Regions from separate parts of the Homo sapiens genome. Here region 2 is linked to region 1. Evidence: fine-mapped expression QTL. Tissue or cell type: whole blood. Region 1 holds a variant in brackets; the other region holds the start of a gene. All regions are shown on one strand. Distances are between the middles of the regions. Region 1 overlaps FAM120A (family with sequence similarity 120 member A). Region 2 holds the start of FAM120AOS (family with sequence similarity 120 member A opposite strand).

Region 1 (15,068 bases):
GAACAAGCAGAAATCCTTTTGAGTTCAGTTTGTATTTTAAATTATTTCATTTAACAACTCCACATATAAATTAAAAGGAGCAAATAACAAATTTCTTATTAAATGCAGGTTTTCAAGACTTAAAAGCTTAAAATCCAGTACAATGAATCTGTATACATTAACCATTAAGAACATTTAGCTAATGTCACATGCATGATGATGGTGACAATGATGAGCACCACTAGCAAGACAGACATTTTTATTACACTTCGAAGGATCAAATATCAATCTGTCTAAAGTGGTTATCTCCGAGAAGTGGGATTATAAGTACCTTTCATTTTCACATGACATATTTCTGTACTGATTAAATTGTTTCTTATTATTTTTATAATAAAAATGAATTTTTAAAAAGATAACATAGGCTTCTATCTAAAACAGTAAAAATGCAACAGAAATATGAAGACTACAAAGATTAACAAAATCAGAGGGTTCAGTCAAACTACGTCATCTTGCCTGTCTCTCTTTTTTTCCCCAATAGACTATGTTTAAAAAAAAAACAAACAAACAGAAGAATGTTTTAAATTTACTTACCTTTCAGGCCCCTAATATTATATTTTCTAAAGCTAAATAAGTACTTAGATTTTAGGAAGTTTTTCTTAGCTCTTACTAAACTATTATAATATAACGACTTATTAAGAAAAAAATATATGAAGTGAACTTCAATTAACACTAACATGTAAGGAGAAATTCCTTCTTTGGAGGGTTCACAGAATTCAGAACTACCCCCTCCTGCTATGACAATATAGGTGAAAGTCAGAAATAAACGAAGTTCATCTTTCTATTTATTTACAGTTTATACCCAACTTAATTTTTTAAAAAAAGATTTCAGAAAGATCAAGTCATCTGATCACTGACCTAGCTCCAGCAAGGTTACGTGGTAAATGCCACACACAATGAAGCCTCAAAGTGCCTGAAATGCTACAGCTCTTCTCGGACAAAAGCTGGCTCCAGGCACTGCATGAGACCTACTGGGACCTCTAGCCCTAGTCCAGAGACAGGCACCATGCACAGCGGTCACTAGGACCACAGGCTGGGCAGCAGCTGCAACAGCCACCCAGGTGTCCATCTGGGAAGCCCAAGAGAGAGGACTGTTCAGTTCCTCTTTGTCTCAAAGGGCCAGTCTACTAGACTGGCCCACTGTGGGGTCTGCTGTGTGTTCCAACCCTGGAGGTGACACAGTCCCTGCGATAAGAAGGCCAGACTGACGGCCCTACCATCGTTGCTCCTGGAGATCCTGATGCTACCCTCCTCACTACTCTCTCAGAGCCAGACCCAACTGCTGGCCCTAAAGGACATGTTTTAAAAGTACCACTCAATGACTTCTGGTTGAAGACAATAAGATATAAAAAATATAGTTAAAGATACCCCTGGGAAAAATTCGAGGTGAATGGCCAGGCACAGTGGCTCACGCCTATAATCTTAGCACTTTGGCAGGCTGAGGCAGGCGGATTGCGTGAGCTCAGGGGTTTGACACCAGCCTGGGCAACAAGGTGAAATCCCGTCTCTACTAAAATACAAAAAATTAGCTGGATGTGGCAACAGCGTGTACCTGTAGTCCCAGCTACTAGGTAGGCTGAGGCAGGAGAATTGCTTGAACTCGGGAGGCAGAGGCTGCAGTGAGCTGAGATCGCACCACTGCACTCCAACCTGGGCAAGGGAGCAAAACTCCGTCTCCCAAAAAAAAAAAAAAAAAAATGGAGGTGAATCTAAAAGTTTTCTTGATACAGCCTGATAGATTGCCCCCGGTATACGGGTGCCTCAGGGAAAGATAATGCTGGTAAAAGATTACCAAAATAAGTGAATCAGAGTGGTAAGGTGATAAATACACAAAGACATTTAAATCAAAAGGAAGAAATGCCAGGGCTAGGAATTAGAGGGAGCTCCTAAGATGATGTAGAAGAAAGCAAGAAGAGTACTTTAGGGGAAGCTCCAAGAGAGGATCATACAGAGAAGATGGCGTTCCATGAATGAGGGTGCAGCCTGGCCCAGGACCCAGCCTGGCCCTAGGATAACCAGCTGATGGGGTCAGAAAGGGCTGGGGGAGGACAAGTACTTCTAGGGGAGGCTCACCATGCAGAAAAGGGGTCTTTCAAAAAGACTGGGAACTGCAGTGTAAACAGAGTAAAACCGACTAAACCTAACTAGAAAGTAGAACTGCTGGTAGTGAAGTCTCAGGAAAGGATCAGTCCATATAAAATCTGCAAGCTGGGGTGTCCCAGACAAGGAGGCAAAAGGAGCTCGAAGGGCTCAGTGGTTGGGAATACTTGGCCATCACAAACAACTGGCATGGATGGAAACTCAAAATATATGAAATTGAATATGAAGTTAAGGAACACAAAAACCACTAAAATGAATACAATGACCTGAAACTAAACAGGTCCAACTTAAATGTTATTATACCCAAATACGAGGTCAATAGGATGTAGAACACCCAAGTGACAAAAAGCCTTCTGTAAAGTGTTTAAAAACCCAAGATTCAAGAAAACCAGAGGCAACAAGAAACATGTTTTTTTAAAAAAATAAAGCCAGCAAACATCTATAAAACATTTTTAAAAATTAAAACAACAAAATGCCCACCCAAAATAAAAAATTCCCGTAACCAGTTAGGACACAAAATCATACAATTTTTAAAACCCCAAAAGTCACATTTTGAAAAACTGCTCACTTAGCACATGTCTACAGCCAGGGGGCCCTGCCCAGGGTGGACTGCCACAGCCGCAGGCCGCCTCTGATGAGTACAGGCCACACCAGCTATGCAGGGCACCCACAGGCTCACTAAACCTTATGTCCAGGCAGACCGAATGGCCAGCCACTCCCAGGGCACAGGAGGAGGCAGGCATGGGGGCACCACCTGAAGGGAAACAGAGGCTGGGCTTGGGACTGGAGCCCATGCTCTGCAGGCTCAGCTCTCTGGGTACCAGGCTGCCTGACGCCTTCCATTTCTCTCATGCAACACTGCCAGCCACACTAAAACCATGAAAGGAGCACAGCGGCCCAGAGCAACACAAACAGTGGGAGCCTCTTCGAAAGACCAATATGCATCCAGCCCACTTTTCATTACTGTAAATACAATCACAAATCTTCCTAATTATAACACTGAGTCCAAAAACACATTGAAAGGATATTCAATGTATTTTCCTTATTAAAGATATGACCCTTTTAAGAAATATTGCCATTGGAAAAAGTTTAAATGAGCGAGGAAATGAGATGCACTCCTGGAATGCCTTCCCCATTGTTTGGGAGGCATTCCAGGAGTGTATCTCAACTCTTCCAGGTACATAAAAGATTCTCTTATGTTTCCAATCAAACAGAGTAACTTACTTAGAGCAAAGTAAGATAAACGCAGCCTCAGGCTTGGGTGTCTGTGCAGCCCTGGGGTTTTACCCATCCTGGCCCAGCCTGCTCTGTATCATCTGCTGCCAGGCTCCCTGTTCTGCAGGACCTGGGCCTGGGTAGAGACAGAGGTCGCACTCCAGCCCAGCCTCCAGGCATCTCCGGGACTGCAGCAAGGAATCCCAACAGCAGGTCTCCCGAGGAATAGGGAGTAACACATAACTCTTGTTTTCTTTCTCTCATTATAGAATTGACCACATCTTAGAAGCTATCTGACCCCTAACCCCATCCTACAATTTTACATGTTACATGAAATGGCCCAAGTGTTCTGAACATAAATGAAGTAGTCTTTGCATCTAAACCTAAGAAATTCAATGCCCACCTTACTAGCAGCTCTTAAGGTTACCATTGAGGTATGAAGAAGTCACCTTACATCCTATTTCCTACTGTCTTCTACCAATTTTAGGTTCTGAGTATGTCTAACATTGCATTCATAATCTAGTAATAAGCACGATCTACTACTAACTAATAAGGCAGGACAAAACAGAATTTGGCTCCCATCCTAGCTTTCCTCTCTGCAGATATTACCCAATGATTTAACAGTTGTTCTCCCTTGTGCTTCTGAGCCCGCAGAGCCCCAAAGCAGACGTGCTATTCTTTCAACACAACCAGGGCTGTGGACAGTCAGGGAGGACTTCACAATTTCTAACTGATGTAGCTGGTTCGATGACAGTCAGAGAGTTAAAAATTTACAGTGAATGAATGAATGCATGTAGTGAAATTGGTAAAGACACATGTTTAAAAGATGAGTCTAAGGATGCTACTTATAAAGAAAACAAAAATTCATAGTGCTGCCAACATACTGAAGATTTGGAATCACATAAATTATCGACTACTGATGACTTCCTATCCATGGTATTTTGTGATTTTCATCAGATGGTAAAAAGATGAAATTTTCTCATGATTTTTATTGGTTCCCTTTCTAACAGAGTATACTGGAAAAATAGCTGTTAAGGACACGTGACTTTGCATCCTCAAGCTTAAGCCTCCTTGGTCCATCCCTTTTATCATATTATATTTGTACTATTTTGCCAAAGCCAAATTTATTATTGTTCACAGAGGGCTGGTGTTCTATGAAGTTAATATCTAATCAATTCAAAGCACCTCTTAAAATGCAATACCCTACTTTGGGAGGCCGAGGCGGGCGGATCACGAGGTCAGGAGATCGAGACCATCCCAGCTAAAACGGTGAAACCCCGTCTCTACTAAAAATACAAAAAATTAGCCGGGCGTAGTGGCGGGCGCCTGTAGTCCCAGCTACTTGGGAGGCTGAGGCAGGAGAATGGCATGAAACCGGGAGGCGGAGCTTGCAGTGAGCCGAGATCCCGCCACTGCACTCCAGCCTGGGCGACAGAGCGAGACTCCGTCTCAAAAAAAAAAAAAAAAAAAAAAAAAATGCAATACCCTAATCTTAAACCTCTCATCATTTCAACATAATACAAAAACACAAAGAATATTTCAGAAAATAAAACTCAGAATATTATGGAAGATATGTAACAACTATCCAAATTTTCAAAAGATGCAATTGGTTTTACAACTGGGGAAAAACAAAGAGACTAAAATAGCAGGTGGGATACATACAATTCTGTAGCACATCCATCAGTCATGCTCATGGGGAGTAAAACCACATCCAATTTCCCCTATGTATATTAAAATCACTGAAATGGTGCTGCATACAAAAATGTGAATGAAGGGTCAAAACATTAAAGTGAGCCGGGTGCTGTGGCTCACACCTATAATCCCAGCACTTTGGGAGGCCAAGGTGGGTGGATCACCTGAGGTCAGGTGTTCGAGACGAATATGGACAACATGGTGAAACCCTGCCTCTACTAAAAACACAAAAATTAGCTGGCGTGGTGGCAGGCGCCTGTAATCCCAGCTACTTGGAAGGCTGAGGCAGGAGAATCACTTGAACCCTGGAGGCAGAGGTTGCAGTGAGCCGAGATCTCACCCCTGTACTCCATCCTGGGTGACAGAGCAAGACTCTGTCTCAAATAAAAACATTAAAGTGGCTAACAAATGCAATTTCTGAACTTATCTCAAAACCAGGTGCACTTGCATTTCATGTGTGACTTTAAAATCCTACAACGTATCAAGTCATCTGAAAAATAATTTAGGATTTCTTCTCCAATATGCCATAAAAGTACTCAGCTAATATCAAAATGCATGCATAAAGCTTGACTGGATCTCGATCAAAAAAAAAAAAACCTATAAATGACTCTGAAAAAATTTGAATATGGGCTTAATATTAAATGATATTAGACACTGCACTCCAGCACAGGTGACAGAGCAAGACCCTGTCTCAAAAAAAAAGATATTAAAGAATTATTAATTTAGTTGATGTCATAGGAGTAATATGATAAAGTATCAAAATGTCCTTATTTTTAGGAAGTGATGGAGCAAGCTGAAGTGGTGGAGCAAGCTGACATTTTCATGGGTAAAGTGTCATATCTGCAACTTACTTCCAAATAGTTTTTGTTAAACAAAACAAAACACAGACATATACTTTATGGCAAAATGTTTATAATTGTTGAACCAAGATGG[G/T]GGATATACGGATACACATTTCTCTATTCTTTCCACATTTCAATACTTAAAGATTTTCTCAACAAAATTTAGGAAAAACACACATATAATGATGTTATTCACTTGGCAATAGATTGAGCTGGTTTTCCAATAATTCTTCAAACAGCTCTTCACTTCTAACCCTGTGACATATGAAGCAGGGCTAGTTTAACTTAGACATACACATATAGCCAGAAACCTTGGGAGTATCTCACTCCTGCTCTTCAAAACAAAATAAATCTTGTAGGAAACAAGCTTTCATTTGTGTCTCACTTACAAAAGCATAATGCTTAACAGAGCTACTGAGCACAGGTGCAGTGCTCTTAAGTCCAGCTGATTACACGCTGCATTTCCCCAATCCACATTTCAATCATGGCATCACCAGAAGCTTAGAGTCCGAATGACAGATCACATCACTTCATTCATGAAAACATACAGGAGGGATTCTATGGCCAGAAATGTAATTTCTAACAAGAGAAGAAAAACTAATTTTTGAACAAGAAGTTGAAAACAGTCCATACCAAACCCCATTAGGGTGAAAAGGAGAACATTTTATAGCATGCCAGAGATGAAAAAGAAAAAGCATGCCAGAGATGAAACAGCAGGGAACAAAATGAAAGGAGGAAAGGAATTCTACTTCAGCTTTTGGGTATCACCAGAGTTAAAGGTAAATTAAAATGTAGGAAGAAAAACTCCCATTTGAAACTAGCCACCAATTAAAATTGTTTATGGAGGGAGGGTAATTACGACAACATTCAAAATTTTACAGCCCTTCGGAAAACACCCAATTTAACCGCCACTCTTTACTGTAAGGAAGCAGTCCCAGGGTGGGAAGCAGATACAAAGTCTAGGTCCCCATCTTCCTAATTCCCCAAGTCAAGAAAGGCACTTGAACTGACAAATGATCATTACAATCACAGGAGTCACTAACAAGTCCAAGCTGAAGTTTTCCAGTGCCTCGTGCATATCTCACTCATTACTCCTATGCTCACATCAAACACAGACACTTCCACTGCAGAAAATCAGAATTAAGTGCCTCATCTCTGATGTTTATTACTATCACAAACAGGAAGGGAATCAAAAGGGAGAAAAAGAATATTAAGTTTTAATAAAATAGTACAAATGGATCACTTCCATTTGAGTCTCCCTCATCATCCAAAAAGCTTTATAAACTATTTTATAATTGTAGAAAATTAGTTATGAAATTTATCAACTATGCAAAGATGTTGCTCTAAGTGACAAGTAACTATACTACCTAAAGACAAAATTAAAATTTTTAAGTAAGAAAATTAATATATAAAACATCAGCTCAAAGATTTCCTTCTATCTAGGTACACAGCACAAAGAATTCCTTAAGGGAAATTTTCAAGGACATTTATACATTTACCTAACATATAGGTGTTGAGAACAAGGGATGGTAGCATTGTTGCTTGCTTTTTAAGGCAGTGCAGATCCTGAAATTATGGGAAAACATGGTATTGCTAACTTTGTAGCATCACCAATAAAGGGCCTAACATGTTATTAAAGTAATAGCAAACTCACAGTTGATTATTACAAATGCTAGAAAAATAAAGTGAAATTTGTACCTTTAGTGAGGCTAGTGGATGTTCTGGACCAAGTAAACTCCAGTGAAAGGAAGCCAGATCTTCATCAGGCAGAATGTGATTTCCTGGAATATAAACATGGATAACATAAAAGCAATCATCTTAAGTAACATAGGGAAACTTTCAAAAGTGCTGCATATTGTCACCTATAGTAGAAAACTTTCAAACAGAAACTGAGAACAAATCTTCATCTCTTAACATAAAGCGACATACAGCAGGCAGAATCTTTGCAGCTGCTTCAAGAATGACGGGAATTTCTAGTGCAGTCCCAACAGCATTCAACCTAAGAACTGCATAAAACTGAAACAACTTCACAGCACAGTATTAAAAATAAACACCAGTTTGCAAAAGGTCAGTCTGACAATGTCAGGATATCAAATACCAATTAGATTCAAGTTTTCATTTGTTCATGAAATGACTATGGTTCAAGCTTTCATCTGTTCATGAAATAGCTACGGTTCAAAATTACATAAAAACACCAAATGTGAAATCTGCACAATTATAAAACCTTTCTTAGCAAGATTAAATGACAATGACTGCTGATTGTAACATGAATCAACACCCTTCTCCCATAATTTCCATCACCACCCACAAACATATGTGAAAAGGCCCATCCTACAGTAATACTCATGAGGCCATTAAGCTGCTCATCCTATCACCAGTGCTGTCACAGTCTACAAACAAAACTGTATTCAATTGAGAAACTATATTTGGGGGTAATACTCTACTTTCATAATAATGTTCGTATGCCTGGTATACCTGATCTTTAGTAGGTTAGCTATCTCATTGAAATCTCAAAGCAGTAATTTCCTAAATAACCATGATTTTTATAACATTACTTAATCACCTCCACATTATGATAGCAAATTCATTAATTTGCTACTAACAGAATGCAACACAAACTAAGACCATTTGGAATATTGCTACGTTATAATATAGGTTGAGCATCCGTAGTCCAAAATGATGTAAAGTCTGTAAAATCTGATGTAAAATCTGAAACTTTTTCAACATCAACATGATGCAAGTGGAAAATTCCACACCTGTGCTCATAAGATGGGTCACAGTCAAAAGGCGGTCAAAATGTTGTTTCCTGCACAAAATTATTTAAAATGTTTTACAAAATTACCTTTAAACTATGTGTATAAGGTATATATGAAACATAAATGACTTTCATGCTGACTTGGGTCCCATCTTTAAGATACTTCATTAGGCATATGCAAATACTCTAAAATACTTCTGGTCCTAAGCATTTCAGATAAGGGACACTCCACCTGTATTCCAAACACACAAACACACAAGCCAGAGGTACTGAACTCCCGTGATGTCCAAATGAGCAAATCTGAACCGTAACTGCTCAGGTTTGCTGGCTTGATATTGTTTTCCCGTTAATGGATTGCATAGAATTTCACGGTGAAGAATGAAGTGTCTGGCCGGGCACGGTGGCTCACACCTATAATCCCAGCACTTTGGGAAGCCAAGGTGGGCGGATCATGAGGTCAGGAGATCGAGACCATCCTGGCTAACACGGTGAAACCCCATCTCTACTAAAAATACAAAAAATTAGCAGGGAGTGGTGGCGGTTGCCTGTAGTCCCAGCTACTCGGGAGGCTGAGGTGGGAGAATGGTGTGAACCTGGGAGGCGGAGCTTGCAGTGAGGCGAGATCATGCCACTGCACTCCAGCCTGGGCGACAGAGCAAGACTCTGTCTCAAAAAACAAACAAACAAAAAAAGAACGAAGTGTCCGAAATTTTGGAAGCTTCAATTCGAAATAATATTAAGGCAACTCCAACATTAGTAACAGTCCCTGTGAAAAATTGGGGGGTGAAATACTTAAATGAATATTCCAACATTCCTAAAACAAAATACTTTATATAGCTATACTTTCCATTACAGAAGGGAAAAGAAAAATAAGCTTTCTCATTTGAGCACAGTGAAACTTTTCCAGCCTGGCCAACGTGGTGAAAATTAGCCAGGTGCGGTGGCACACACCTGTAATCCCAGCTACTCGGGAGGCTGAGGCATGAGAATCGCTTGAACCTGGGAGACAGAGGTTGCAGTGAGCCAAGATCGCACCACTGCACTCCAGCCTAGGCAACAGAGAGAGACTCCATCTCAAAAAACAACAACAACAACAACAACAACAAAAACTTAGGAGCTTACCTATAACTTCACTAAACTTTTTGAAGAGATTGCAAGCCCTAAATTAAATTGACAACATATTGCAATTGATTTTTTCATTTATTTCAAAACTTCACAAACTAACAAGCTAGAAAAGTATCAGTTGGCATCATCTTCCAAATACCATATTCAATGTTTCTTAAACAAGATAAACAAGTATTCTTCCATTTTTCAAATGAGCTAAGGCATCCATATTCTAAGAGCATATGATTTTCACATTCAAAGTCAATTAATATGCCAAGTTATTTTACATAGCATTTAAGCAAACATGGAACTTTCCATATAATGTGCCACCCCCATACTCACTTTTAACATCAGAGGAAATATCCTTTTATATTTTAATATTTGAAAATATATTTAAAAGATTCGTTTTAATCCCCAAATCCCCAAAGGCACAAGAGTTCCCTTACTAAGCACTGTATTTGAGATTAGATCCAAACAAACACAAGTTGTGAAATCACAATTTTGTTGACTGACTCATATAGTAAAACATGAAATGCTTTCACAAAATAACATATAAAAAATTATGTGGCCAGGCGCAATGGCTCATGCCTGTAATCCCAGCACTTTGGGAGGCTCAGGCAGGTGGATCGCCCTGAGCTCAGGAGTTGGAGACCGGCCTGGCCAACATGATGAAACCCTGTCTCAACCAAAAACACACAAAAAACTTTAGCCGGATGTGGTGGCATGCACCTGTAGTCCCAACTACTTGGGAAGTTGAGATGGGAGGATCACTTGAGCCTGGGAGGTGGAGGTTGCAGTGAGCCGAGATTGCACCACTGCACTCCACTCTAGGCAACAGAGTAAAAACCTGTTTCAACAACAAAAAAAGGCTGGGCGCGGTAGCTCACACCTGTAATCCCAGCAAAGACAGAGGTGGGTGGATTGCTTGAGCTCAGGAGTTCAAGACCAGCCTGGCCAACATGGTGAAACCCTGTCTCTACTAAAAATATAAAAATTAACCGGGCGTGGTGGTGGGCGCCTGTAATCCCAGCTTTCAGGAGGCTGAGGCATGAGAACTGCTTGAACCATGCAGGTGGAGGTTGCAGTGACCCAAGATCACACTACTGTACTCCAGCCTGGGCAACAAAGCAAGACTCCATTTAAAAAAAAAAAAAATTGTCCAAAGATATCTTAACGATGAAAACTTGAAAAGCATAGCCTCTGCAGCCCATGGGCTGGCAGTTTGCTGATCTTTTAAAGTTAATCTTTCCCTGCCCAGTCCCCATTTTCTGGTAAGGTTTCTAGGAGGTCTGTTGGTATACATCCTACAACTTATTGACTTAAAATGTACTCTCCTTTGAGACCGATTGGGAGAAATAGAAATCAATAGCGCAATCGTTTTGATACTGAATATTGAAAAGTGTCTCTTTGAAATAAAGAACCAGTCCCTCCAAAAAAATAAAAATAAATTGTGACTCCTTACAATTTCTAGTTGTGTAAAACTGTTTTGGAATGTTTATAAAAATCTTTCTGATAACTAGGCATTTCTAAAAATAATCCACAATATAATCCCCTCTTGAACAGGACTGGATTGGACTGCTAGCCTCTATAGAATATATACTGCAAGGGAGCACAGTAACTGAGCACTAGAGACCACACAGCTTCCCAAACTGGCCTTGTGTGTCCAAAACAGCCCCAAATCCCATCAGATTCATGGATTCTAATCACAGGAGTGCCTCCCTCCAAAACATGTTTACTTATATTTGGACACAATTCTTATAAACTAAGTAAACTAGAGCTGGATATTAAAGTAGGGTGAGACAAGCACAATGAAAGCATAAGAAAGGGTAGCTGACAAAAGAGCAAAGAAAGAAAACACACAATGCAAATATAAAGTGACAGACAAATATATTACTTCTTGGGAATTTTTTTTTTTTTGGAGACAAAGTCTCACTCTGTCTCCCAGGCTGGAGTGCAGTGGCACGATCTTGGATCACTGCAACCTCCACCTCCCTGGTTCAAGCCATTCTTGTGCCTCAGCCTCCCAAGTAGCTAGGATTATAGGCGCCCACCACCATGCCCGGCTAATTTTTGTATTTTTAGTAAATACAGGGTTTCACCATGTTGGCCAGGCTGGTCTCAAACTCCTGACCTCAGGTGAGCTGCCCACCTTGGCCTCCCAAAGTGCTGGGATTACAGGCGTGGGGGAATTATTTTTAATTAAAGAAAATTAAAATCTAATGTCATAGTTAAAACAAGATTTCATCCTTTCTGGGTATTCAGCATAAGGAATTCCTCCAAGGAAATTTTTTAAAGACATGTATACATTTACTTAAAATGTAGGTGTTGGAAACAAGCTACGATAGCTTATTTTTGTTTCTCTTTTAAAGTAGTGAGTATCCCGAAAATGAGGTGAAAACATAACCATTCTAACCCCATAGCATATTTTCTTCTACTATAAACATAATTTATGTCAAAGGTTTAAATGTCTAATTTACATAGTGACCATGTGTTGACATCTGTGATTTAGAATGTTAGTTTTCCAAAACCTTAAATGAGTTTTTTCACAAAATTAATCTGAACAATTCCTGGATAGAACAATACCTCAACAAACACTTAAGAACAAAAGTAGCACATTAGCTATGCCAAAAAATAATACGAAGCAAGGAATGCTAAGGAAGAGCCCACGCCTTGGTTCTTTTCAATGTGTGATACATATCCAAAACATTCAAGCACAGAAACACTTAAAAGATCAATGTGCTTATCATATGGTCACTCCCTTATAAAATATTTTCACACTGCTCCACCTACCTAAGAGAGCAGCAAAAATAGGAAAACGATTTGGATTCAGGTCCAGTTGCTTGGCAACTTCATGCATCAGATATTGGCTTGTGGTGAGACTTTTCCCGTTCCGGCTCAGTTTTAGGGCATGGGCACTGAAATAGTAGGGGATGTTGCACAGTGCATAATCAGAGTCATACGCAACCAAGCCATGGAAACCATTCTCTCTGCAGAAACCAATCACTTCCTGATGGTGATCCTCAATGCTCTGTGCAACCTGGCAAACGAGAAAAAAACTTCATCAGATGTAGGGTAACACTGTAGCAACAAGCTCAATAAGCAGAAATGTTTGCACAGAAGCTGAAAAATCACATTTATGAAAACTATCCGTGAAAGCCAAACAGTCAAAAAAATGCCATAATAAAGTTTGCAACACATTGCTCCACTAAGAAATTTCTGTGGGAAATCGCATTTAAATCATCTCCTGTCAGTAACTTATGATCCCATCTAGACTGTAAATCAATTTTCAATTCTTGTCAAGCTCAAAGATCACCTTGCTTGAAAATACACAAAGCCAGCTGACCCCATGACAGTATTTTCAAGAAAGAGAGGGGGAGAAAGACACAAGAAAATAAAGAGTTCTGTGAGAAAGGAGACAGAAAGAAGCCACCCACTGTCAATGAAATCAAAACAATTTCTTCAAAGTAGATCAAATGTGTCAGGTGAAATCATCAGAATTTAAAAAATAAAATAAAAGTATGATCCCTCGGCCTACCTGTCAACCAGTTCTTATCCTCCTAAGGCCTCCCACACGTGGAGACCATACAAGGATGCACACGTTCACCCTCAATGTAACTGCCACAGGCTTATTCTATGTCCCACACACTATGTCAAGACTAGGTCTATATCAATTGCCTTTTCAATGATGAAAAAATCTAAGACACCCTCTTTACTTCTACTGAATCCCCAATGTAACATCCACAATACCTCGGATTTCCACAACACACGAAGGAGCAAGCAGAGAAGCAACACCTTTGAGAAGTCAAAGTCCTCTGGGCTCTCTCTAGTCCAAAAAATATACCAAAACACCTGGAAAAAATGTTCTAAATGATTTACAGTCCAAGACCACCAAATTCTCTCCTGCTGTTTCACATACTCATTAATCCAACTAAAATTCTGGCAGGTTTTTCGTTTCTACAATGGATAAGGTAATTTTGAGAACAGAATTTTAAACTAAATTAGGTGATTCCAATAACAATGGAGTATTAACTCTCCACAGGGCCTTGGAGGAGAAAAATGTGTGCCACCCTTAACCCCAAGTTTTTAAAACTACTGTCCAATGTGTGGCTACATTGAGAGAAAGTTTATATTAAATTAAATTCAAAATTAAGTTCAAGTATTCAGTGGTCACAGGAGACCAGAAGCTAACATACTAATTGGACAGCACAGAACATTCTCACTACGTCAGAAAATTCTACTGGACATCACTGTAGAATGGACCTCACTTCTCACCAACTTTCATAATAAAAGCAGTCGCCACATTTTGTTGGAAGGTTAGCTATAATGAAATCTCACTGAGAGGCAAAGCAAACCTTTTCAAGATGCATACGTAAAAGAAGAAATTACTTTCTGAATTCTCGGTAAACATTTCCATAAAAACATTTTACTTAATAAGAAAAAAACCAAACAACATCCAATCAGTCAAATAACATTCTATTCTTTAGAATAAGAAATGCTGTTTTATCCCTCAATCTAAAAACACTGTATACCAGCTAAAATAGAATAGATTTTTTTTAAATCCAAAATTAGGCCTGCTTCATCCTCTCACTTCTAGAAATGGTAATTTCTAATCCAAGTTCTTTACCTCAAATCTTTTTATTATGTACAACTTTACATTTACAGTGATTTTTAAACTATTTTAAAATCATTAGAAATTACTGGCTTTTTTCCAGACATCTTTAATAGTTAAGTCTGTACACTCTATTAAGAGACACGAAAATGAAAGGAGACAGTAAGTGACCACTCCCTTCTTGGCTCACCCTCCTTCACTCCTCCAAGGAGATCTAGAAAAGTCAGCTTGTTCCTTAGATTCACACATGTTGGGAAGGAAGCTGGGCAGAACTAAAACAGAGGCTAAAAGGAGGTGAGAGCCCAGCCCTGCCCACCTCCATCAGCAGGGAGTTCAGAGACAGCCAGCACTCATCTCCCAGCTTCACAGGGTGGTGAACAATGCCTGGGTGAGAAGGGGCTGCTGGCCCACGGTGGAAGCAAAGCCATCTCACAAGAAGAGGCTTTCTAACCAAGACCTGAAAGGAGGGGCTGGCCCTGGGCAGGACCTCCAAGGAAGAGTATCCATGCAGCATGGGCAGGGGACCTAGAAAGGTCAGGAAATGAGCCTGGCCTGTTGCCTGGGCAGAGGGACCCACTGTGTTCCAATCCTGGGATCAAGAGGAAAAGCGGGGGATGATGAAGTCTGAGAGTAGCAGGGATCAGGTCTAATCTGGCAGCTTTCAAGTAATGCTGTCAGTATTGTAAAACAGCAGGCAATATATTTCAAGAGCTGTAAA
Region 2 (15,068 bases), 19 kb after region 1:
GGTCTGACAGACTTGAGCTCCCCTGCTGTTCATCTGGTCTTCTGAAGCTCCTTCCTGTTTTCCCTTCTCCTATACTAAGCTACTCTCTCACTCTTATTTATCTGCTTCTTCTCTTCCCTGGCCTTCCAATGCCTGGCTTGGACTGGGCATAATACAATGAAATGTGTACTTCTAGTTCTTAATGTTAATTTCAGAAGTGGGTTAAAACTATTAAACGCAATGTTCAGATTATTTGATTTTGAACCCCCTCGAAGAACAAAATGACGTAAAAAATTAAGCCCTGAAAACACTTACTTACAGGTAGCCCTTCAAAGGGGGTAAAGTCATCCACCAGAGGTAAATCAGACTTCGAACTATGAGCTGCCTCCTTGCTGAAAGTCCCAGGCTAGTAGCCACTGAAAGTATCTGCCATTTTAAAAGCACCAGGCCTTGATTAATTTTTGTCATGGCTACCATTTCCACTCTATCAAAATGCAGGCTTCAAGATCAAGGAAGTGAAACTCTAAAACTCCTTCTGTAAACAACCCCGAGGAGCATTAGGCTTCAGCTCTTGTGAAGTGATGAGGGGGCTAGTGTCCAATACAACACTCTAACCTGGGGCAGCCAGGATGGGAATCACAACACTTCTCAGCTTCTTCCTCCCTGTCTACCCCCTCCCCAAGAAATATGGTAGGTGTCATTAGTGTTGACAAGTTTAAGAAGTGGCAAAAGGGCCCGTTTCTGGTCTCAAGAAAGTACTCTGTACTTCGATTTACAATGATAACTTTATGCCACTATAAATTTACCAAATATACCTAGGTAAATCTTTTTATCTCAGTAGTTTTACATTTCATCATTAAAAAGGCAGATATATCAAAACTCAGGACTTTTACAAAGAATAATGACTTAAAAACTCCCAAACTTACTTGGCAAGTATAATTGTTTATTAATTCTGAAACACAGCTACAGGAAGACCCCATAAGAAGAAAAACTTGACACTGTTACTTACTCCTAGTTTCCAGTGAAAAAACACTCTACAATGAGGTTTGTGTCTCTGGCACCAGGTAGGTGAACTCCACTGCCTACTTTAATACTTTCTGTACTTCCATTTCCTCATCTGTAAGAATAATAGTATTCCTCTATCTCATAGGGTAGCTGCGATGATTAAATATACTACATGTAAACAGCTCAGAAGCATTCACAAATAATAAGCGCTTGACAAATGTCAGTTACTATGTACTTTTAAGGAAGCTATGTAAAAAGGTTTCTTTATACTTTTCACACAGGACCTGAAACACTATGGGTTCTCATACATACATTTTCTGACACTAGGAAAACATACCGTTAATGTGGTTTTTCTTCAGAATAATTTTACACCAGTTCAGGGAACAATGTGACACATCCTCCAGCCAGCTAGCTGATTTAGAAGATATAAAACAACCTGACATAAGAGCGTATAGGTCCACCTAAATTATTTTGTTTTAAAAAACAACTACCAAAAAGGCAGTCTTCAGCCTCTTCCCAATGGGCAGTCAATAGGTATGAAATGGGAAAAACTAACACTGAAGCTTCTGTTCCCTACTCTAGTCCAACTGAAGAATAAGAACATTAAAAAAAGTCAACTCCAATTTGGTGGCAGATTTTTGTTGCTGTTTAAAGGGCAATTTAAATGTTATGACACATAGCAGCAATGCCTCTAAAAAGAAATCTCTCTCTTCAGGTAAGCTGAAATCATAGCTGAATAAGCTTATCTTATATATCTCATTTAGAATAAATGAGAATTGGGTACAGTGATCTTAAAAACAAGGAAAAACATTTCTTAAAATAAGGGAGTGGGACATGAAAAGATGCTCAACTTCACTCATTATTACAGAAATATAAATCAAAACCACAATGAGACACTGAATACCTCACACCCATTAGGATGGCTACTATTTTTTTAAAAAAAAGAAAATAACAAATGTCAACAAGAATATATGGAGAAAAACAGATTCCTTGTGCATTGCTGGTGGGAATGTAAAACAGCGTGGCCTCTTGGGAAATCGTATGGTGATTCCTCAAAAAACTGAACGCAGAACTACCCTAAGATACAGCAATTACACTTCCAGGTTGAAAAAATGGGTCCGAAGAGATGTCGGTACATTCATGTTCACAGCAGCACCATTTACAATGACAAAAAGGATGAAACCCAAGTGTCCACCCACTGATGAATGGATAAACAAAATGTGGTCTATCCAATACAACAGAATGTTATTGAGCCTTAAGGAGGAAATTCTGACACGTTACAACATGTATGAACCTTGAAGACATTGTGTTAAATGCAATAAACCAGACACAAAATTACATATACTATACGATCTCATTATATGAGGCTCATAGGGTAGACAACTTCAGAGACAGAGAGGAGAATGGTGGTTACCAGGAGCTGGGGCATGGAAGAAATGGGGAATTACAGTTTAGTGGGTACACAGTTCCAGTTTGGGATGAGGAAAAAATTCTGGGAATGGATGGTGGTGATGGTTATACAACAATGTGAATATACTTAATGCCACCGGGGACAGGCGTGGTGGCTCACACCTATAATCTCAGTACTTTGGGAGGCCAAGGGTGGTGGGTCACTTGAGGTCAGGAGTTCAAGACCAGCCTGGCCAAGATGGTGAAACCCTGTCTCTACTAAAAATACAAAAATTAGCTGGGTGTGGTGGCAGGCGCACGCCTGTAATCCCAGCTACTCAGGAGGCTGAGGCAGAACTGCTTGCACCCGGGAGGCAGAGGTTGCAGTGGGCTGAGATCACGCTACTGCGCTACAGCCTTGGTGACAGAGCGAGACTCCATCTCAAAAAAATATATATACTTAATGCCACTGAACTGTACATTTAAAAATGGTTAAATTGGTAAATTTTATGTTAGGTGTATTTTACCACAATTTTAAGAAACAATAATAATAAAAAGAAGGGTATCTCCCTGTCTTCTCAGAAGGCCTAGGTGCTTTGGCTCCAAAATTAACTTCCTACTTGTAAAAAGGCAGAGTTTTCCTTTTCCTTTGATTAACGACAATTAGGATGTATGTAATAGTTTGTATCTGCCAGGCTGTATCAAAGGGTGACACTTCTTTTTGGCTTTCGCAATCTCTTTAGCACACACTGCTTGTGATGTGATCACAGTCTGGTTCAATGGTTATTCAATAATACAGGTTAGGTGTCCTTTACTGAAACACTTAAGACAAGAAGTGTTTTGGATTTCAGGCTTTTTCAAGTTTTGGAATATTTGTTATTATGCTTACCAGTTGAACATTCTAAATTCAAAAATCAAAAATCCAAAATGCTCCAGTGAGCATTTCCTTTGTGCATCATGCTGGTGCTCAAAAAGTTTTGAATTTTGGAGCATTTCAGATTTGGGATGTTCGAATTATAAAACTGCTTGATTTTTCCCTCTAAAAATATTAATAATAATAAAGGAGTGATGTCATAAAAGAAATGCAAATTAAACTTTACAAACTTTAAAAATAAAAAAATACAATGATAAAAGGAAGAAACACACACATTATTTGTATTCAGAATCTATTTAGCCTACTCTAGTAATCTAATGACTCAGCTAAATCCTAGTAATATCATTCTTATTAAAATACCATTCCAAAATCTAAAACATAAAATTTCAATTTTCATAATTTAGGAAAAAGAACCACAGGTTGATACTATTTATTTCAAGATAGTAACACTTGCAAACTCTTCATAGGTCCAGGAAATTAAAACACCTCATCCATGGAGTCTAGTGACCCCCTCCAACAGTCTGGGCTGGCTTGTTACTACTATTCATAAATGTGCTCTACCTCAGAGGATGAATGATGTACTTCAGACCTGTGAAGTCAACCCTCCAGCAATAAACCCTCTAGTATACTTTCCTGCACTAACCAGTAAAACACCAACATGGTAAATTCATCCTTTCAAGAAAGTTAATTGATTCCAGAGACAACTGAGAAATGCCAAATGACTGGCGCATAAAAGTACCGTTTCTAAATCACAGATCCTAAACTCCATAATGCAGATTGACCATCACCTCTACAAATACTGCAGTGGGTCAAGTTCAACTCTTTTACACTGTCCCCTAAGATGCCTAGAAACAATGTGTGATAAAGCCAGGTGTAACAAGAGGAAAGGTGGCTAAATGCAGCCCATTTCCTGAAGCAGTCACCCATTTTATGCCCTCAACACATCTCCTAAGTTAAGAAGCATAAAAGGTTTACTCAAAGATAAAAGCTCTGCACCAGGTGGCCAAGCTGACACCAGTGATTTTGGAATTAACTCTAGGGGGACTTTAAAACTTCTGCTTCCTACCATCTTTCTGCCATCACACTTCCTTGCCTGTAACTGGTGATTCATATCCATTTATCAAATATTTTCTGAGCATGTACTACACACCAAGCATCGCTCTAAGAGCTGGATAACAGGCAAGGTCTTCATCAGATTTACTTCTAGAGAAAACATAAAAATAAGCAAAAATAGGGCCAGGCATAGTGGCTAATGCCTGTAATCCCAGCACTTTGGGAGGCCAGGGCGGGTGGATCACGAGGTCAGGAGTCCGAGACCAGCCTGGCCAACATAGTGAAACCCTGTCTCTACTAAAAATACAAAAATTAGCTGGGCATGGCGTGCCTGTAATCCCAGCTACTTGGGAGGCTGAGGCAGGACAATCACTTGAACCTGGGAGGTGGAGGTTGCAGTCAGCTGAGATTGTGTCACTGCACTCCAGGTTGGGCAACAGAGTGAGACTTCATCTCAAAAAAAAGCGAAAAGGAAATAAACGATGAACTATATGGAGACATTTAGATAATTTAAGAATATTTTTATCTGAACTGTGATTCATTTAAATGCCTGTTTTATTTAGAAAATTCTGCCTATAAATCTACTGGAAAGTAGTCTAAGTTTTCAAATCCTAAAATCTCTCTTCTTCATGTTACGCGATATTTGACATTTATTCCTATGGTGTAGTGCTTATTAAGGTTGGAATGTGTAATATGTGTTAATTAGTTTCTTCCTATTCATATAAATTTCAGAAAACTAAAATGAAGAACAATGTCGATCTAAACATGTTAGACATAGGAGGAAGTATACCTGCGTGTATTTTGATTCAGAAAATTAAGTTGTAGTTTTGATTACTTTCTTCCTGGTGTACTTGGACATCTCTATCGCAAACATTTATATGACTTTACAAAGGCATAAAGCTTATAATTCTTTGATTTGCTCATACCAAGATTTCCTTACCTTGGCACTACTGGTATTTTAGGCCACATTATTCTTTGCTATGGGGGCTGTTCTGTGCACTGTAGAATGTTTGGCAGCATCCTTGGCCTCCACCCAATAGATGCCTTCAGTTAACATCCTCCCCCAGCTGTGACAACCAAAAATGCCTCCAGGCACTGCCAAATGTCCCCTGCCAAATGTCTCAACTGTCAACCCTACTTGAGAGCCACTCACAGGTCTTCACTGAGTAAACATATTGTTCTACAGTATTAAAGAAAGTTCCAAACAAGAAAAAAAGGATTTAAATGAACCTCCTCAACCCAGAGGCTATAGGCTCCCTGAAGGTTTCCTTCCTTTCCTGTTCTGTTCACTCCTCCAGGCCTGGGCATTAACAGGTGCTCAAACATTTGCTGAAAGGAGAATCAATCACCATTGGGAACCAGTCAGAAAAGAGAGTATGAGAAATTTAAGATTAAAAAAACAAAACAAAACTTAAGTAATGGCCATTGATCCAGATTTTGAAATAATTTAATTTGTCTGGCTATATAATGGAATGCAGCAAATATTCTGATTAGAGTTGAGTGCCTATGCTAAGCATAATGGGGTACAAGAGGAGTAAAACAGTCCCTGGCCTCAAGGAGCCTACGGGTGGCTGGGGGAGGTAAATATGCAGTTATGCAGGTAGGTGCAATACAACAGACTAGAATGTCCACTGCAAACATACACCATGCTGTGTGTGTATTCCCAGTCCACTTTTTCAAATATCAAGAGATTCCATGAAGAAGGCTGGCATTTGACATGGGCTTTGAAGTGTAAGTAAAATTTTGATGAGCAAAAGTAGGACACAGTACAGTAGTTAAACAAGAGGGAATGACATAAGCAGAAACTGGATATTTCTTGGGGAAATAGTGACCAGTTGGGTTGGGAACATTTTAAAAAGTACAGTAGAGGGATTGTGAAACATTAAGTAAGGTCAAATGAGTTCAGGTCGCAGGAAGGTCTACAAGTCTGAATAAGGAATTTGGACTTAATGGTTTTGTTCAAGTCCCAACAGGAGAGTGACCTCCCTGAAGATGTGGCCGTCTACCCTGCCAAAGCTGTGCAAGATTAGTTCCACTGGGGCGCGGGGGTAGGTGCAGAGGCCATTCTTACTGCTACCCACAGTAATACAAAAGTGTAATGACATGGAATTTACCTATAGTATATGCCTTGCATTCTATTTTTCATTCTATTTTACTCCGTTATTTTTAAGTAATGGCAAACATCCAATAATTTGGTTTCACAACCCACTGAAGGGTTTGCAAAGCATTTCTTCGACCTTTTGGATAAATATGGTGAATTCAAATGTTGGGGGTACTGGAAAAAAGGAAGAGTATAACAGTTAAGTAGGAGACTACTGAGCCAGAATTGGCCTGGTGTGTCATTATTCTAGGGACTGGGAGGATGGGATGCTGGAATACCAAGCATGACTCTATGGTGGTAGAGGGTGTAACTCTGAAGTGAATGATCATGAAGTTCAAGCTAGTTACAGCTAAAAAGGAAGCCAACAGAATGGGAAAAGAGAAATGGCGGAAGGCAAGCAGGGGACAGACGGTGGGAGCGGCAAGGAGTGACAGGGACACAGCGTTCAGAAGTGTTAAAGGTGGGGTCACTTTTCTCACTAATTATACGGTCCAAGCTCTGGAGTATCTAAAGTGCAATTAGAAATTCACTCCAGTTGCAGAATCAGGATGCCAGATGAGAGAGGTGAAGAGTCAGTGTCTGTGTTGATGGGACACAGTATAAATAATATATAAGAATGTAAAACCAGGTGCTGAAGTGTTTGAGGACAGTGAGGCTGTGCCTTGGAAATGGTGAGATGTCAAATAAACATGTGGGTTAGCACTCACCTCAAAATATGTAATATTGAGAAGTATATAATGAAGAATATACTATGGAAGTGGCCAAGAGGATTGTGGCATTTAAGGAAACATCATATTGCAGTAACCCCAGGAAATGGAAGCATTTTGATCATTGAAAAAGGTTCAAGGAGGCAGACAGGAAAAGACAGAGTGGTTTTTGATAGGTTTAATTTTAAAGTAAAAAAAAAAAAAAGGAAGAGATTTAGATGACCATGATAATTGTTGATAAAGATCAGTGCTCAAATAACAAATTGGTGGCACAAGAGCTGAAGCTAACTTAGAACCAAGTTTTCCTTCGCTTGGCATTTTTAAAATGGAATAATTTTTTTAAAAATCTGGGTTTCTGGCTTTCTTGCAAAGTCTGAAGTTCTGGTAATGTTGACTCTATGGTCCTACGTGGCTTTTAAAATGTGCATACCTTTAGCTCTACTGTGTGTATATATCATGTGTATACCATCTGTCGGGGTTGGATAAATTATGGAATACTATTTAGGGACTGAAAAGACTTAGAGCTCTAAGTATAGACATGGAAAGATTTCTTACAAATAAAAAAGCAAACTGCTGAATAACGTATAGTGCAATCACATTAATGTGAAAAAATGGAACTATATTATAATAATATATATTATATAACTTATGACATAAAATATATGGCCTACACAGCCACTGTGGAAAATATATGGCCATTCCTTAAAAAGAAAAACAGAATTACCATATGACCCAGCAATCCTACTTCTGAGTATATACCCAAAAGAACTGAAAGCAGGAACTCGAACAGCTCTTTGTATACTATGCTCATAGAAGCATTATTCATTATTCCCAATAGTCAAAAAGTGGAAGCAACCCAAGTATCCACCAGTGGATGAATGGATAAACAAAATGTGGTACATATACACAGTGGAGTATTACTTAGCCTTAAAAGTTAAGGAAATTCTGACACAATCTACAACATGAAAGAAGCTTGAAGACATTATGCTATGTGAATTAAACTAGTGACAAAAGTAGTACAACAGAGAAATATATACAGTGACTAGTTTGAGGTATAATATGGTCAGTTTTGAACCTTAAAAATCTTCCAGTCAATTAAAGGTCCTTAAGAATAAGATGTACTGTCAGTGTCCAGGATCTACTGATGGACATTTTTCTTCTGAATAGCAACATGACTGTTCCTATCCTAACTAGAAAACATAGCTGAAGCAGTTAGCTATCGTAATTGACCTGGGGGTGAGAATTGTAGGTAGGCACACCCACAAAGTATTCTTACACAAAGAAGCTGAACTTTGACTTTAGCACTCCACTTCCGTCTTGAGGTTACTAATGACTTGTCCCCAGATGTCACTTAATCACTAGATCCTGTTTTTACACATGAAAAATGGGGTAACAAAGCACTCTGAGGATTAAATGAGATGGAATATGTGAGAAAGGATCTAGCAAGCACCTGGTCTGATACCAGTTCATTCTCTTCCCCCATCAAGTATACATGAAGGGAGACCATCATCTCTAAATACAAACATGTAATTATGCTAACCATGAAAATTCTAAACCATAGTCTAACCTCACATTCTTCCACTGACTTATAGCATGAACGCCATTTTATGTAAGAGCATTATTTAACAAAATTCCAATGGAAGCAAATTCAGAAGATCTGAAGGACTTTATTATAAACCCTTACACTGATACCACAAGTCATATAGCAGAAACATTTATGAAAGCTCCAGTGACTTCATGCCACTAAGATTTTAAAATAAACATAAGTCATTCACTGAAGTTTCAAAGGTTATAATGACCCAAGGCACACAAGAAGAAACACTGTCCAAGTAACTAGCTAAAGCCAAGTTCAAATTAGGCTATTTTAGGACCTACACAAAACTAGTCAATACATAGGCCAAAGTATTATTATTTTCATTGTTCTGGCTGTCTTTCCATGTAGACCAACTTCTAATGGTTAAAGAAATACAATTACTACTACTGAACAAAAAAATACAATTACTACTCTGTAAAAGAAATAATCTCTAAATCAAAAAAGATTTCTCCTGGCCAGGCGCAGTGGCTCACGCCCGTAATCCCAGCACTTTGGGAGGCCGAGGCAGGTGGATCACGAGGTCAGGAGCTCAAGACCAGCCTGGCCAAGATGGTGAAACCCCGCCTCTACTAAAAATACAAAGATTAGCCAGGCATGATGGCAGGCGCCTATAATCCCAGCTACTAGGGAGGCTGAGGTAGGAGAATCGCTTGAACCCAGGAGGTGGAGGTTGCAGTGAGCCGAGATCGCGCCACTGCACTCCAGCCTGAGAGACAGAGTGAGACTCCATCTCAAAAAAAAAAAAGATTTCTCTAAGCAAAGGTAACAGGAAATTATGCCCCTCTGCCAATTTACAAAACACTAGAAAGCACCAATAAGATGCTTAAAGTTTTTATAAATGTCTCATTTACTCAACATTATATATACTGAATTGTTCATGTCAATTCCTTTGCCAGTGGTTTTTACTTAATCTTAAAAAAATTATCATATGATAAAATTAACACATTTACTTTGGATGAATAGTTCTGATTTTAATGTATGGTAGCATCACCACCATCAGAATACAGAACAGTTCCATCACTCCACAAAGATCTCTCCTGCTGTCCCCTTTATGTGTACATCCTTCCCCTCCTCTACTCTCAGCACCACTGAATTGGTCCCTATCACTATAGTTTTATAATCATCCCTTTTGAACCTGGCTTCTTTCACTCAGTATAAAACCTTAATTAAATATTCATGCAAGTTGTTACCTACACCAGCAATTCCTTCCTTATTATTGCTAAGTAGTATTCCATAGTATGGCTATACTGTAGTTTAACCATTCACTTATTAAAGGATACTTTGTTTCCACGTTTGGGCTATTATGAATTAAGCTGCTATGGACATTTGAGTACCAGTTTTTGCACAAACAAAAGTCTTCATTAGGAAAATACCCAGGAGTGGAATTGCTGGATCGTATGATAAATGTATGTTTAACTTTATAAGAAAGTGCCACTGTTTTCTGGAGTGGTGGTGCCATTCTGCATTCCCACAAGCAATGTGTAAGGATCCAGTTGCTCAGCATTCTTGCTAGCACTTGGTATTGCTCATATTTTTTTCTCTTTTAGCCATTCTAATAGGCATGTAGTGATATCATGGTTTTAAACGTTTTAACCACTTTATGGGTATCTTTTATTAAATGGTATACACTGTTTCAATCCCTTAAACAGAGAATGCTGAATATTAATTTTTATGACTCAAAATCATCCTTATAGAATAAACATTGTACTACCCTCAGGGACCAAGGAAGTACATAGGGTTGTTTTCCTTTTCTTAAAATAGCCCCAGAATTATGTTTGCTTTTTATAGCTTTTTAAATCTCTCTTGTCACTTCTTGCTATTAATGGTGCTCCTGCCTCTGGCAGACTCTCCTCTTCATCCTCTTCTCAAGCTGAGTTTAGAAAATAGATAACCAAGCTTGTTAGAATTACATATGAAAAGAGGCCAGTCCATGAGTGAGAGAGCTTAAAGGATTCTTCAGTGAGGAAAGCAAAAGCACCCCCCTACACCCGCCAACCCCCCACATCACTGTACCCAAACTTCCTGACATCTTGCTTGGTTGCTGAGAAATTTCTAGTAGCTAAATCTCTTAGGCACTTTTCAAAAAGGTAAGGTTGCCAGCTAAGAGACCACCAAGTAATTGAGTTATTACAATATTCATTTTGTGCAATTCGCACTATAATATGACCCTAGGTCAATAATTAAAAGCTTAGCAAAAGCAAAATACAGACAAAATTATCCCATTATCCCGTGTCCAGAAACCTAAGTGAAAAAGACGATCTTAAATGGAGCTTAAATCTAGTTTCCTAACACTGACACATTGGTCTGAATTCTGAGCACCTACTAGGTGTGCGAGGCATTCAAAGGGGTGCAAAGATAAAGAAACTGTAGAATTAAAAAGAACTCAACAGTTCTTTAAAGATACAGTGACCATATGCATACATACTGATTCTAATCCTAAGTAATATTCACAGTGTTCCCTTGAAAGTCGCTTGACTAGTTAAGTAGAGAGCTGTGCGGTTACCAAAGGCAAGTCAGTGCAGCTCATCCTGTCTTTTAAGTAGTCTTTTCCATCTCTGAACAAGACTAAACTATGAACACTTTTACGCTCTATTAGGGAGATGGATCGCTTCAGACAAATGGCAGCACCTTACTTCCCTGAGCGCCCCAGGCTCCGATTCAGAAATTAAAAGGCAGGCACTTCCTCTCACCCGAACTTCCCTGAGGAATGGCAGCTGTGTGTCTGCCAGGCGCAGGGGCCAATCGGGACTCTGCCGGCCGCCTCCACCCACGACTTAAACACCATCTCACCAATTGCAACCGGATCGTGGGTGGGACTTCCGCTATCATTTTAGGCTTAACTACCACCATCTCCTCGCGGGCAGTGGGGGCAACCGCGAAGACAGAATTTCACAAACTTTCAGCTCCAGCAGTTTCAAGGAAATGTCAAATGACAAGATGGAAGACCGAGTGTCAAGAGCTAAGACAACAAAAAGGCCCCCAAAATTTGTTTTCAAGAAAACCAATGAAAAAAGCAAGCAATCAGAACGTGAAGTCCAGGATCATGGATGTGCTTATCTTCACAGTCACTGCTGGGTCCTGAAGTTCTCCTCTGGCCCAGTGCCAGCTGCGAAGCCCTCTGCCAAAGGGCCAGAGGAGGCCGGTGATATAGAGCTCTGATTACCCACCCGTCAGGGCACCGCTGAAGGTCACTGAATACTTACTGTGCACCCGAAAAATAAATCCTGCGAGTTCACGCCCGCGTAGTTCGCCCCCTGATTTTGAGCGACTCCTTTCGCATGGGATCTACAAAACCGAACTGCCTTAAAGACCTCTTTCACACGGACGTGAAGTCACAGAACTGACAAAATCCCATCCTGTCAAAGTGCACGGGTCTTTGAAATCTAACACAAAAAGCCATAGAAAGATTCTCTAAACACCCTGTACTAAGAGGAACACGGACAGGGCACTGCGTTCTGAAGTAGAGGCCAGGGCACTGGCCCTTAGACACGTCTCGCTGTCACCGGGCTAACAACATTGGCAAGGGCGGCGGCAGCAGCACTGATATTTGCAGCCCCCAAGGGCTCTGGCGAAACCCCCTCTATTACTCTGTATCCTGCCTGCTTCCAAGATGAACCTGTTGCTGGGAAAGAACAGGCTAAATTAGAAAAGGGAGTATTTTGTCAAAGTTGAAGGTGAGTGATAGCCTGCCCGCCTCAAATAGGATGGGAAAAACTAAGGATATTGGGGATGATGACACTGTCGCCTCCGAATTCTGGTCCGGGGCTCTCTCCCAGCCCTCAAGTGTCCCCACGCGGCCGCGGACCCCGAACAGGGACAGCTGGAGACGGGCTTGGGCAGCGCGCGGCCTGCACCCGCGGCCATCCATCTTGCAGCCCGGCCCGGCCAGGCTATCCCGGGCAAGGGCTGGGGGAACTCGCTGCCCCCAGCGCCGCCACGGCCGGGCGACATTCTGCGCCCTGGGAAGGGGGATAGGGGTGCGGCGCGGCCCCGGTCCCCGGCCCGCCCGGATCCCCGGCCTCACCTTGACGTGGAAGCGGATGAGCGCCAGGCGGATGCAGTGGGCCATGCAGACGGGCGGCAGGAACCAGACCTTTGGCGGCGGGGTGCCCTTGTTCTGGACATGGCTGACGATCTGCTGTGCCGTCTGGCGCTCGTTGCCCTGCCGCTTGACCCACTCGTGCAGCCGGGCCTTCTCGAGCGCGCCGTTGAAGAAGACGAAGAGCTCGATGTTGCCGCCGAAGCAGGCCTTGGCCAGCGCCGCCAGGTAGCCAAGCATGTGGTTCCACTGGCCGCCGCTGACCCAGTCGGTGTAGAAGCCGCCGTAGAGGCGGTGCAGGCAGTTGTCGGCGTCCACCAGCAGGCGCAGCGGGGTCTGCGGGGGCCGCTGCCGCCCGCCGCCCACCAGGCTGCCCCGGGCCAGCTTCTGCAGCTCCACCGGCACCACGGCGCTCGGGCAGTGCTTCTCGATGTAGTCCTGGAAGCCCTGCACGCCCATGGCGGCGGCGGGGGCGCGGGCGCGGGTGCGGGCGGGGGGCGGCGGGGCCGGGGGTGGTGGGGCCGTGGCGCGCGGGCGGGCTGGCGGGCGGGGGCGGCGGCCTCTAGGGGGGACTGGGGCGGGTCGGGGGCGCGCTCATGGCCGCCGCGGCCGCCATGTGCTGCCGCCTCCCAGGGCCATGTCTGGGGAGGGACCTGCCGCCGCCGCCGCTGCCGCCGCTGCGAGGCCGAGGCCGAGGCCGAGGCTGAGGGCCGGGGCGGGGCGGGCGGGCGGCGCTGACGTAGCGGACCCGCCCGGCGCGGACGCCGCCCAGGCCCGCCGGCTAGCAGGCGGAAGAGGCGGCGCCGGCGGGACGCGGCTCGGGGCTCCCGGAGGCGGCGGCGGAGGCGGAGGCCCGGAGTTGGGCCGGGACGGGATCCGGGAGGCTTCTGAGCCGGAGCAGGCAGCGCCTGGAGGCCAGAGGCCGTTCGCCCGCCTCAGGCCGGTCGGCCGCCGCTCCCCTCCCCTGCGCCCTGTTCCCGGCAGGGCCAGAGAGGCCGCCGCCTCCGCCCGGTGGTTCTCGGGCGAAGGGAAGCCGCGAAGCAGGTCCTGGGGAAGAGCTCGCCTGCTCCTGAGGGAAGCAGCGATAAGATGGCGCTTTGAAGGGGAGCCGAGGCCGAGTCACTCTGTTCGTCGGGACGCCGCCTTTCTAACGCCGCCGTCGGCTCGCACCACTCTGGGCCTGCTGCCCACACTGACTGCGGGGTCCGGGAGAGCGGGATGCTGGCCGGCCGCGCCTGGCTTCTTGGAAAGAGCAGGAAGGAGCGCGAGAATGCAGTTCCGCGGCAGGTGCTCATCCCAGCAGCTTCGGGCTCTCGGTTGTGGTTTTTACACCTATGACAAATGACATGGCCAAACACACCATAATGTCTGAAGGTACAGGTAGCCCTAAGCGCCTGCTCGTCACGGAAGAGACTGTCTTGAGAGCACAGGTCTGTTGCAGCGTGGGAAAGCCTGCGTTACCACTGCGCAATGGCTAGACTGAAACGTGCGCCTTTGCAGTGGATCTCCCAGCTCTTCTGAGGGAGAGGGATTTGAATCTTGTTGCTTTAGTAGCATCTTCTGGAAGGAGGTCGTTTACGTAAATTCTGTTCCAAAGCTCTGTCGTAACTGCTTCTAAAATGAGGTTGATACTGTATGTATATTAGGCTTGCATAAAACATTTTCAAAAAGAGATTAATGTCTTTCAGAATATAAATTTAGAAACCCAGCACTCTAAAAGTTTTAAAGTGCCGCTTTTACTTACCTTCATCTCTCCATTTGTTCTTTTTTTGGAGAAACCTCTGTAGAGGAGCAGGATGCAACCGACAGGCTGTGGCCGGACAGCTGCTGCCCAGCACATGGAGCCTGCACGCGCACGGTTTGGCCAAAGAAGCCCCCATACTCCCGGTGAAAAAGGCAAGTTGGATTTTTCTGCTTTCTTTTCTGATACCCACCTCAAATGCAAGCCAGTATCATACGTACATAAATTAAATGCTGCTGGTATTTTAGGAAGTTACATTTAAAAGCAGGCTGACAAGTTATGCCACTCACCTATGCATAAAATTAGTCACAAAGCCAGGATGACATGTTATCTAAAAATAATACAGGCCAGGTGCGGTGGCTCACGCCTGTAATCCCAGCATTTTGGGAGGCCGAGGCGGGTGAATCATTTGAGATCAGGAGTTCGAGACCAGCCTGGCCAACATGGTGAAACCCCGTCTCTACTAAAAATGCAAAAATTAGGCGGGCCTGGTGGTGTGTGCGCCTGTAATCCCAGCTACTTGGGAGGCTGAGGCAGGAGAATTGGTTGAACCCGGGAGGCGGAGGTTGCAGTCAGCGGAGATGGC

What was found. PIP is the estimated chance that this variant, and not a neighbour inherited with it, causes the effect.
Region 2: it holds the start of FAM120AOS, and the variant in region 1 is fine-mapped to the expression of FAM120AOS in whole blood (TOPMed, PIP above 0.99).

What each region holds. Positions count from the first base shown.
Region 1 is chr9:93,468,851-93,483,918 of GRCh38, reverse strand. It overlaps FAM120A (family with sequence similarity 120 member A), which reads right to left. Exons shown (of 18, transcript NM_014612.5): 2 at 12,532-12,778; 3 at 7,581-7,663. Among named protein-coding and RNA genes, the nearest start is that of FAM120AOS, 23 kb to the right of the region's middle. RefSeq lists enhancers at 894-1,394, 14,483-14,532, 14,613-14,672. The variant G/T (reference allele first, on the strand shown) is at 5,977.
Region 2 is chr9:93,450,048-93,465,115 of GRCh38, reverse strand. FAM120AOS (family with sequence similarity 120 member A opposite strand) reads left to right here and starts at 11,535. Exons shown (of 3, transcript NM_198841.4): 1 at 11,535-12,969; 2 at 14,517-14,637. The coding sequence starts at 12,407. It overlaps FAM120A (family with sequence similarity 120 member A), which reads right to left and starts at 13,431. Exons shown (of 18, transcript NM_014612.5): 1 at 12,727-13,431. The coding sequence starts at 13,200. RefSeq lists enhancers at 4,042-4,541, 11,335-11,629, 11,693-11,822, 13,402-13,951 and silencers at 12,542-12,721, 13,022-13,151, 13,292-13,821.